Homo sapiens: one gene and its partners. The protein of the gene in region 1 purifies or fractionates together with the protein of each later gene. This does not show direct contact. Each region holds a gene or a part of one and is shown on either strand. Other genes may lie near its edges.

What was found.
Region 2: the proteins of KDM3A (region 1) and GART fractionate together in Homo sapiens (co-fractionation; one large-scale study listed by BioGRID). This does not show direct contact.
Region 3: the proteins of KDM3A (region 1) and ECPAS fractionate together in Homo sapiens (co-fractionation; one large-scale study listed by BioGRID). This does not show direct contact.

The regions. Positions count from the first base shown.
Region 1 is NC_000002.12:86,444,371-86,448,025, forward strand, and holds part of KDM3A (lysine-specific demethylase 3A), read left to right. Parts: intron 1-3,655. UniProt on the Homo sapiens protein: Histone demethylase that specifically demethylates 'Lys-9' of histone H3, thereby playing a central role in histone code.
Region 2 is NC_000021.9:33,532,118-33,535,772, reverse strand, and holds part of GART (trifunctional purine biosynthetic protein adenosine-3), read left to right. Parts: intron 1-452; coding exon 453-548; intron 549-1,019; coding exon 1,020-1,194; intron 1,195-3,316; coding exon 3,317-3,428; intron 3,429-3,655. UniProt on the Homo sapiens protein: Trifunctional enzyme that catalyzes three distinct reactions as part of the 'de novo' inosine monophosphate biosynthetic pathway.
Region 3 is NC_000009.12:111,477,872-111,481,526, reverse strand, and holds part of ECPAS (proteasome adapter and scaffold protein ECM29), read left to right. Parts: intron 1-3,655. UniProt on the Homo sapiens protein: Adapter/scaffolding protein that binds to the 26S proteasome, motor proteins and other compartment specific proteins. May couple the proteasome to different compartments including endosome, endoplasmic reticulum and centrosome.

The DNA of each region.
Region 1 (3,655 bases):
CTCATGTAAGATGCCAATCTTCTGTCTCTTTTCTAGTCATGATTTATCACTGCATTCCTTAGTTGAGTAGCAGATGTTAAGTTTGGGGGCCATGTTGCATTAAAAAAAACCAGGATTTTATTTTACCTTGATTTTAGAGTTGGGGGGTCTTGTTGCCCAGGCTGGTCTGGAACTCCTGGGCTCAAAACACCAAAACCAATTTGTGCTTGGTGAGATGGAGGCAGGAACCAAGTAACTAAGACCATGCTTACACTAGGGTTTAGGGGCATTAAGTTTTTGGGGGGTGAGATGGGGGTGGGGCGAGGGGCTGAGATGAATGTCAATAAATAACATTCAAGTAATATGTAACCATTCTTCTATTATTAGGACAAATACAAGTCTGTCTAGACTGGCTTGTTTAGATAGTTATGGATGATATTAATGAGGCCAAGGCTTGTTAACTTTGTTTCACCTAGAGAGACTTTATAACAAAACCACTTACTTAGATGACAAAAAGAGAATATGTCTAGTAGTTGGTTACAGAGAAGTTAAGGTGAAGACATAATAACAGTGGATAACTATGATTAAATGGTTACATCAGGATTTAGCAAAGAAAAAATAATCATTAAATGGATATTATGTGGCGATTACTTCATTTAATCCTCACAAATATCCTAGATGGTAAACTACATTTTTAGTGTCAAAAACTGAGGCTTAAAGAAGTTAAATAACTTGAGTTTGTCTCCAGACCTTAAACACTAGGCTTTAATATTCAGGTAGAGCGAGGTTAGAGCATTTTATTTTGCTAGCCTCTATATCCCTAGCACCGAGAACACTGCTTGGCATGTAGTGTGTGCTCAGCTATTTGAATGGATAAGTGAAGGAATCATAAAATTATTACCTCTCCTATGGAGAAACAGTTTAGAAAGAATCTACTGATGAGGCAGTAGCATTCTCTTCATCTGGAATAACAACAGATCTTAATTAGATGTGGCTATAAAGACTGCTTTAATCTTATTTTTATCCTGCTCTTTCTACTTGAGTATGAAATGAGTTGCTTCCTAGCTGATTTTGTTCACATAATTATGCGTGGTGGGAATGCCCTGCTTCCTTAACTTGTCCTTTTTTCTTTGAAGCCTACCTTTTTCTTGAGTCTAATGCCCTGCTTCCTTAACTTGTCCTTTTTTCTTTGAAGCCTACCTGTTTCTTGCGTCTAATGCCCCTTCTTAGTCCTTACAGGTGTCCTTAGCAGGCAATTAGTCCTTGCCATCTGTATGTACCATTTCCTGCTATTGTCAGCAATTTGGTGCCTTGACTAATGCCTAGCCTTTCATTTTTGCACACCATTGAAACTTTAATGTTAGTGCAATCTGCTGCCAGTCAAGCCATGTAAAATGAAAAAACTTCTAGCACGGTATAAAAACTGTTTACCCCTTTTAATTGAATGCTGGACCTTGGGATCTTCGACAAACATTTAGGCATAAGAAGACATAAGTGGAAGCACAAGGAATTAATTTCTTTGTGGAGTAGTGAATTAAGTGGTATCCTGCATTGTAGTGCAAGGCATAAAATAGACATGTAATTAAAAATTTGTCTAAAAACCATATCATTCTGTGCTCCTGCTTTTAAACTTGGAAACATTTTCATTGGTGTTTCTGATGGCCTTTATAATCATATAGTCAGGTGAGATGAGAGTATGGTAAGAGTGGGAGATTTTGATATTAGTTTATTAGATACAATATTAATTCATATATCAGAAAGATTTTCTGTTGGGGAAACATTGGCTTGAAAAATCTGAAATATCGAGCATTTGGTCAAGGTGTTTCATAGGTACTAATAAGGTACACATTTGCAAAATACCCATTAAAAGAAGAGCAGATTTCACAATTATAGGTAGTGAATCATAGTTGACTCTGGCCTTTGAAGCCACACAGTGTAAGTCACATCTCATTGTGGGCCAAAGGAGCATGGGTGAAATAACACAATTTAGAATAGAAACTAGCTGCATCTGTCAGCTTGCATGAGCTTGGTCAAGTCACTTTAGTTCTTACTGAATTTAAATGTCTTTTTAGGCCAGGCGCAGTGGCTCATGTCTGTAATCCCAATAATTTGGTAGGCCAAGACGGGTGGATCATCTGGTCAGGAGGTCAGGAGTTCAAGACCAACCTGGCCAACATGGTGAAACCCAGTCTCTACTAAAAATGCAAAAATTAGCCAGGTGTGGGTGGCACTCACCTGTAATCCCAGCTACTTGGGAGTCTGAGGCACGAGAATCACCTGCATCTGGGAGGCAGAGGATGCAGTGAGCTGAGATCGCGCCACTACACTCCAGCTTGGGCAACAGATTGAGACTCTGTCTCAAAAAATAAAATAAGTGTTTTTTTGTAGAAATGTCCACAGAAGAAGCTTTTTTGGGGGATGTCATTAAGTGTAAAACCTCAAACCTTAAGGCACAAATGAAAGATGCTTTGTTTTTTCTGGAAATGGGGTCTCACTCTGTCACCCAGGCTGAAGTGCAGTGGCACAATCATAGCTGACTGCAGCCTCAACTTCCTTGGCTCAAGCAATTCTCCCACCTCAGCCTCCTGAATATCTAGGACCACAGGTGGGCACCACCACTCCTGGTTAATTTTTGTATTTTTTGTAGAGACGAAGTTTCCCCACGTTGCCTTGGCTGGTTTAGAACTCCTGGACTCGAGTGATCCTCCTGTCTTGGCCTCCCAAAGTGCCGGGATTACAGGTGTGAGTCACCATGCCTGACTGACATATATGGTTTTGATAGGAAACTTTTGAACAATATTGAAGAAAGCTCACAACTTGTTGGTTTTCTTATATATTTTTTAAAGTCATCTTTTTCCAAACCAAAATAATGTGATTTTTGGCTAATACAGCATAATATTTGAAAGTCATAAACTTAAATTGTTTTTAAGGAGGTAAACTTTTTTTTTTTTTTTTCAAATCACTCAAAAATTGGGATATGGAAAGGGGCCCTGTCTGTCTTTTGGTTTAGGGTTATCTTAAGCTTTAGATAGTGATCTGGTAAGAACTGTGATGTTGCTTAAGTTTTGGGAAACCACTTAAGATCTTAATCCTTCTTAATTCTGCACTTTTTTTTTTTTTTGCTGAATAGATATTAGATAATTGTGTTGAAGATCCTCTTTCCCCTGCTCCTAACTTAATAAGTGATACCTTGATAAGATTTGAATTAACCATGGAGGTATTAAAACTACCTAGTTGTCTTGCCAGACACTTTACATACACTGTCTTTTAAAATATGCCTAACTATGCAATGAGAGGTGTCACTTTTTTCATTTTGAAAAACATTGAGAGAACTTAGATTTTCTAAGTGAGGGTTCTTAACCTGGGGTGCAAGTTAGTTGGTTTCCTTTGTAATCATAAGTATTTTATTTTATACATGTAAAATCATTCTAAGAGAGATTCAGTGTAGCTGGGAATTCAAGGTCTCTGAATCTGGATCTAGAATTTGTGTGTGCTCATTCCTCTTATACCACATTGCTGATAAATAAGAAAACTGTCTACCTAAAGCTTGGTTGGGTTTGAGGTTGATGTGAATATGGAGCAGAAAGACTAGCCAATTTAGGGGAGATGTCAGAGCATATGGATTCTGTGGCTAGGAAACAGAAAGGAAGATGGGCAGTCTCTGCCCACCTTTATG
Region 2 (3,655 bases), on another chromosome or scaffold:
TACAGGCGTGAGCCACCGCGCCCCGCCGTGTTGACATCTTAATACCAGTGCTGAGGACAGTACTTAGCACATAGTGGATTTTCAGTACAATTGATTGATTGACATTAAAAGACCAATTTCTGAGTATATCTTACGTTTTTTGTTTAATATACAGTCAATATTAGTGACGTGAACAATATCATGGAGGTGATACTTTATGGCTCTTTGGGAAGTTTATTGGTGTTTTCATCTGTCTACAATGATAACGGAGAACTGAGCTCTGTTGGTTAGCCTAATGCACTCTCCTCTGAATTTCACATGTTGAAACTGTCATCTCTGCCAATATAAGAAAACCAACAGATAACAAGCATACTAAAGTATAGAACTTAGTTTTTTTAGTGAGACACTTAGTTTACTTAAGTGGAATGTTTTTGTAAATGCAGTGGTTTTTTTTTTTTTTTTTCTGTTTACAGCCATCTCAATCAGTGACCACACTGCCCTTGCTCAATTCTGCAAAGAGAAGAAAATTGAATTTGTAGTTGTTGGACCAGAAGCACCTCTGGCTGCTGGTAAAGTTTGTTTCTGTTTATTGTTACAGTATATTCAGTGCAAACAGAAGCTTAGGGATCATCTAATCCAATTCATTTTACAGATGAGAATTTGTAATATTATCTTGGAAAAAGAGCTTCCACTCTCGAAATTTATGGAGTCTAGATTTTTTTTCCCAAGCATCAGTTATATGATGAGTTAGAGATCAAATTTGCAGCCATGGAAAACATTTTATATGTCTTTATTCTGCTGTATTCTGGTGTGTGTTTAATAATCCATATATGCAAATATAACAACTTTTGATAGATTTGAATAACATGTTAATAGCATTTTATCTCTATCCAGTAGACAACATGAAAAAGTTAGTTATCCTCTGCCACCAGTCATCTGCCTTGTCTAGATGTAGATATAGTCTGATACTAATTCGTCTTCAGGCTGAAAAGCCCCTGGGGAGACCTTGGTTCACCTAAGGCTACTGTTTTCATCAATAGGGATTGTTGGGAACCTGAGGTCTGCAGGAGTGCAATGCTTTGGCCCAACAGCAGAAGCGGCTCAGTTAGAGTCCAGCAAAAGGTTTGCCAAAGAGTTTATGGACAGACATGGAATCCCAACCGCACAATGGAAGGCTTTCACCAAACCTGAAGAAGCCTGCAGCTTCATTTTGAGGTAGGTAAATGGTTGTCTGTGAAGGACAGTTGTTTAGTTTTGATATTTAAATACACAGGTCAGTGGCCAGGCACAGTAGCTCACCTGTAATCCCAGCACTTTGGGAGGCCAAGGCAGGTGAATCACTTGAGCTCAGGAGTTAGAGACCAGCCTGGGTACCATGGTAAAACCCTGTCTCTACAAAAAATACAGAAAAAAAAAAGCCGGGCATGATGGTGTGCACCTGTAGTCCCAGCTCCTCTAAAGGCCAAGGTGGGAGGATCACTTGAACCCAGGAGGCGGAGGCTGCACTGAGCCAAGATTGTGCCACTGCACTGCAGCCTGGGTGACAGAGTGAGACCCTGTCTCAAAAAAATTAAATAAATATACAGGTCACTTCTGTGTTGAAAATGTAATGCTAGGTCTTTAGGCTGTCTCAAGATGTAGTAAGATAATTAAGGAAAAAACTTTCTCAATAAATATTATGTGGGTTGTCGTTTTCCAGAACCAAAATAAAATGGGATCCTATGCATACAGAGTTTATATGATCTTGTGGCCTTGCAGGAAGATGACATTTTTAATAAAATCTGAGTAGTTCCTCAGGGGAAAAATACACTTGGTTCTGCAGTTGTGCGCTCTTCACAGCCATGTTTTTGGTTTTTGGTTCCCCGCCCCCCACCACCACCCCCCAACCTGAGACGGGGCCTCTCTCTGTCACCCAGGCTGGAGTGCAGTGGCGTGATCTTGGCTCACAGCAGCCTCTGCTTCCTGGACTCAAGTGATCCTCCCACCTCAGCCTCCCAAGTAGCTGGGACAATAGGCACACACCACTACTCCCAGCTAGTTTTTATATTTTTTGTAGAGACGGAGTTTTACCATGTTTCCCAGGCCGGTCTCAAACTCTTAAGCTCAAGAGATCCGCCTCTCTCTGCCTCCCAAAGTGCTGGGATTACAGGCATGAGCCGTAACACTAGGCCTCACGGTCAGATTGACAAACGCAGTGGCATCTTACAACATAAAGAACATTGATTTTTTTTGTCATAAATAATTAACCAGAGTGAGTAATCATCACTTGGTCATCTGCCACCACTATTGCCATTTTATTTTATTTATTTATTTATTTATTTTTATTTTTATTTATTTATTTATTTTTTTTTTTTTGAGTCTCGTTCTTTCACCCAGGCCGGACTGCAGTGGCGCTATCTCTATCTCGGCTCACTGCAAGCTCCGCCTCCCAGGTTCATGCCATTCTGCTGCTTCAGCCTCCCGAGTAGCTGGGAATACAGGCGCCCACCACCACTCCAGGCTAATTTTTTGTATTTTTAGAAGAGACGGGGTTTCACTGTGTTAGCCAGGATGGTCTCGATCTCCTGACCTCGTGATCCGCCCGCCTCGGCCTCCCAAAGTGCTGGGATTACAGGCGTGAGCCACCGCGCCTGGCCACTATTGCAATTTTAAATTTCAAAATTAAACATCCTTTGTTCTCTATTATGTGGAAAGCATTGAGCAATTAATGAGTGTTAGTAGACACATGCATTTGCCCTTTTTTTGTTGGCACTTCTGCTTCCTGGTTATGTTTTCCTTTCAGTTGTGTCAGTTTCATTTTTTTTTCATTCATATCCTAAAGAGTTTCTTAAACACTGAATATTATTATTTCCTAGCAGCCAGATGCCTTGAGCAAGTAACAGTTTTGTTACTTACTTTGGGTAAGTCTCCTTCCAGACCCCCAGGCCCACTTGATAATTTCATATGTGTACTCCCAGAAATGGTCTGTGTATGCTTACTGTTGTTATACAGCCGCATTTTCTACCTGAATGAGAGTACTATTTGCTACTTTGTATCTTAGAGATTATGCCATATCTACTCTATACATCTACTTATTCTTCCAAAGATATTGCCTATGTAATCTCATGATAAATGAAAAAAGCAAAATTGTAGGTACTGTATGATTGGAACTACAAAGGAATACGTAGGGGAAAAAATCCTGGTGGGAAGTACATCAAAATGTGTTGGAATGATAATTAATTTTTTTCTTTCTGCTTTTCAGTCATTGCTATAGCATATCGTTACAAAATCCCACAGCATTTTAAAATCTTGAGTTGTAATGGTTTATTGGATGTTGACGATTACTCTGTCTTTACAGTGCAGACTTCCCTGCTTTGGTTGTGAAGGCCAGTGGTCTTGCAGCTGGAAAAGGGGTGATTGTTGCAAAGAGCAAAGAAGAGGCCTGCAAAGCTGTACAAGAGATCATGCAGGTAGGCTGGGTCTTCTGAAAAAATTTACTTTTCTATTCATACTGAATAAATACCGTTTTAAGTTTAAAAAATGTTCCTCACAATAAGGAAAATCTATTTTGCAAACATATGGGTAAGTTATTTTTTATAATCCCATGTATTATAATCCATCTCTATAAAATAGTTATGGATTTACACTGTAAATTAAACCATGATTGTATTATTTTGAAGTAAATTGTAACATCCTT
Region 3 (3,655 bases), on another chromosome or scaffold:
CTTTTTTCTTTTTTTTTTCTTGAGACCAAGTCTTGCTCTGTCGCCCAGACTGGAGTGCAGTGGCGCGATCTCCGCTCACTGTAAGCTCCGCCTCCCAGGTTCACGCCATTCTTATGCCTCAGCCCTCCGAGTAGCTGGGACTGCAGGCGCCCGCCACCACGCCCGGCTAATTTTTTGTATTTTTAGTAGAGACGGGGTTTCACTGTGTTAGCCAAGATGGTCTTGATCTCCTGACCTTGTGATCTGCTGTGATCCACCCGCCTCGGCCTCCCAAAGTGCTGGGATTACAGGCGTGAGCCACCGCGCCCGGCCCCCACTGTACTGTTTTTGACAGTGGTTGTACCATTTTACATTACCACCAACAATACACAGAGTTCTAATTTCTCTATATCCTGGCCGACACTTATCTATATTGTCAGTAGTAACCATCCTGTTGGGTGTGAGGTGGTCTGATTTTTTTTCAATTGCTATGCTGTATGACATCTGAGTTCCTGTTGTAGAACCAAACACATTAAAGTCTGAATTGATAGCAGGAATGGGAACAAAACTAGAGGAAGAATTGGATATTCTGAAGTGGCTGAAGTATTTGTGTCTATGCAGTGTGCTTCCATACATTCAGGTACTGGTTAAGATGCTGATAGTTAAGGGATTTCCTGGCTCTAGTACCTAATGGAAAGTTAGGAACAAATAATTCCAATCCTTGCCTTCTTCTTGTTTTGTTCAGTTAAATTGTCAGTCATCAGCCACAGATATCGGTGGACTTGGTTTCTGTATTTCTTCAGGAGAGACTGAATACGTTGCAGTTGATACCTTAGAATAATTTAACTTGAAAGCATATACATGTACACTGGTTAAGAAGTTTCATATAAACCACTTTTAGTTTTAGAATGGGTATAATAAAATAGCAGATGCTGATAAAATGTGCTTTTGGCCAGGTGTGGTGGCTCACACCTGTAATCCTAGCACTTTAGGAGGCCGAGATGGGTGGATCACCTGAGGTCAGGAGTTCAAGACCAGGCTGGCCAACATGGTGAAACCCTGTCTCTACTAAAAATACAAAATTTAGCCTGGTGTGGCGGCACGTGCCTGTAGTCCCAGGTACTCAGGAGGCTGAGGCAGGAGAATCACTTGAACCTGTGAGGTGGAAGTTCCAGTGAGCCAAGATTGTGCCGCTGCACTCCAGCCTGGGCAACAGAGCTAGACTCTGTCTCAAAAAAAAAAAAAAAAAAAAAAAGAAAAGGTGCTTTTAAGAATTCCACTAAAAAAAAAGGAGAGAATTATCCAAATATTTTCTATCATTTATGACTAGTAGATGATAGTAAAAGCAAACTACTAGATGCCAGCATTGTTCTCTTCCACTAACATTTTATTGTAAAAAATCTTCAAACACACAGAAAAGTTGAAAGTGAACATTCGTGTACCCACCACTTAGATTCTATCATTGATAGTCAAATAACTTTATCATATTTACTATTATAGCAAACTTTGTCATTTGTCCATCTCAGTAGATTTTTAAAAATTGTTAAAGTTTTTTTTTTTTTTTTTTGAGACGGAGTTTCAGTCTGTCACCCAGGCTGGTGTGCAGTGGCGCGCGATCTCGGCTCACTGCAACCTTTGCCGCCTGGGTTTAAGCAATTCTCCTGCCTTAGCCTCCTGAGTAACTGGGATTACAGGCACCTGTCACTGCGCCCAGCTAATTTTTGCATTTTTAGTAGAGACGAGGTTTCACCATCTTGGCCAGGTTGGTCTTGAACTCCTGACCTCGTGATCCCCCCACCTCAGCCTCCCACAGTGCTGGGATTACAGGCGTGAGCCACCATGCTTGGCCAATTGTTAAACTTTTTTAGTTTTACTTTATTTTTTAAAAAATAGTAGTAAAATACACATAACATAAAATTTACCACCTTAACAATTTTTTTTGTTGTCTTTTTCTGGAGACGGAGTCTTGCTCTGTCGCCCAGGCTGGAGTGGAATGGCGCCATCTTGGCTCACTGCAACCTCCACATCCTGGGTTCAAGTGATTCTTCTGCCTCAGTCTCCCGAGTAGCTGGGATTACAGGTGTGCGCCACCATGCCCGGCTAATTTTTTTTTTGGTAGAGACAGGATTTCACCGTGTTGGCCAGGCTGGTCTCGACCTCCTGACCTCATGATCCGCCCCTCCTGGTCTGCCAAAGTGCTAGAATTAAAGGTGTGAGCCACTGTGCCCTGCCTGCCTTAACAGTTTTTAAGTGTACAGTGGTATTAAGTACTTATTACTCCATCTTTTTTTATGCATTTCAAAGTAAATTGGTGACACCAACACACCTTCCCCCTAAATATTTCAGCACCAGCATTGTTTTAAATGCTTTGTATGTATTATTCCTCAGAATAACCCTGAAAGGTAGGTAACATTATTATTGCTGCTTTATGGAGAGAGAAACAGGCTTCTTAGGTCCCCTGGGTCCTGCAGCTGGAAAGTAGTCCCAGTGTCCTCAGTCTCTAGTATGCACTCACAGCCATCCTTGAGGCCATCTTACCTCTTTGCACCATAGTCAGAGTGTGTATGATGAACAGTTCAAATCAGATGCATTGCCAGATTCTCAGCTAGATGTTACCTTAATCCAACCATTTGACTGTTGTTTATCATTGCTGTTGGGTACAAAAGAGACACCAAAGCCCACCAAAGGAATTACAATACTATTGAGGAAGAGGAAGAATATGTGTAAACAGATAAGTAAGGACCAAAATATGACTGTATGATATGGATAATACTAAAGTAATATCATATGTGATTCCCAGGTCTGTTATTTTGAGATGTGTAGCTGGTAAAACTGCATTTCTATAGATTTCAAATGAACATTTTCTGCCTTGCATTTGAAGTAATTTACGTCATATCAATTTAAATGAAATCTGCAACTTTCAGTTATATCTGCTACCACACTTTGTAGGAGAAGCAAAATTGACTGTTAGGGTTCTCTTTTATTTTATTTATTTATTTATTTGTTTATTATTTTGTTTTTGAGATGGAGTCTCGCACTGTTGTCCAGGCTGGAGTGCCGTGGTGCAATCTCAGATCACTGCAACCTCTGCCTTCTGGGTTCAAGCGATTCTCCTGCCTCAGCCTCCTGAGTAGCTGGGATTACAGGTGTGCGACACTGCGCCTGACTTATTTTTGTATTTTTAGTAGAGACGGGGTTTCACCATGTTGGCCAGGCTGGTCTCGAACTCCTGACCTCGTGATCCACCCACCTCTGCCTCCCAAAGTGCTGGGATTACAGGCGTGAGCCACTGTGTCCGGCCTATTTATTTTTTTTGAGTAATACCATTGAGCATGAAGTTGCCAGAAGGCTGGGTGCGGTGACTCAAGTTTGTAATCCCAGCGCTTTGGGAGGTCGAGGTGGTCAGATCACTTGAGTCCAGGAGTTCGAGACCAGCCTGGGCAACATGGTGAAACCCTGTTACTACAAAAAATATAAAAATTAGCTGGGTGTGTTGGCATGCGCCTGTAGTCCCAGCTACTTGGGAGGCTGAGTGGGGAGGATGGCTTGCACCCAGGAAGTCAAGACTGCAGTGAGCTGAGATCACACCACTGCACTCTAGCCTGGGTGACAAAGCGAGACCTTGTTTCAAAAAAAAAAAAAAAAAAGTTGCCAAAAATAGGCAGGTTAATTTTGG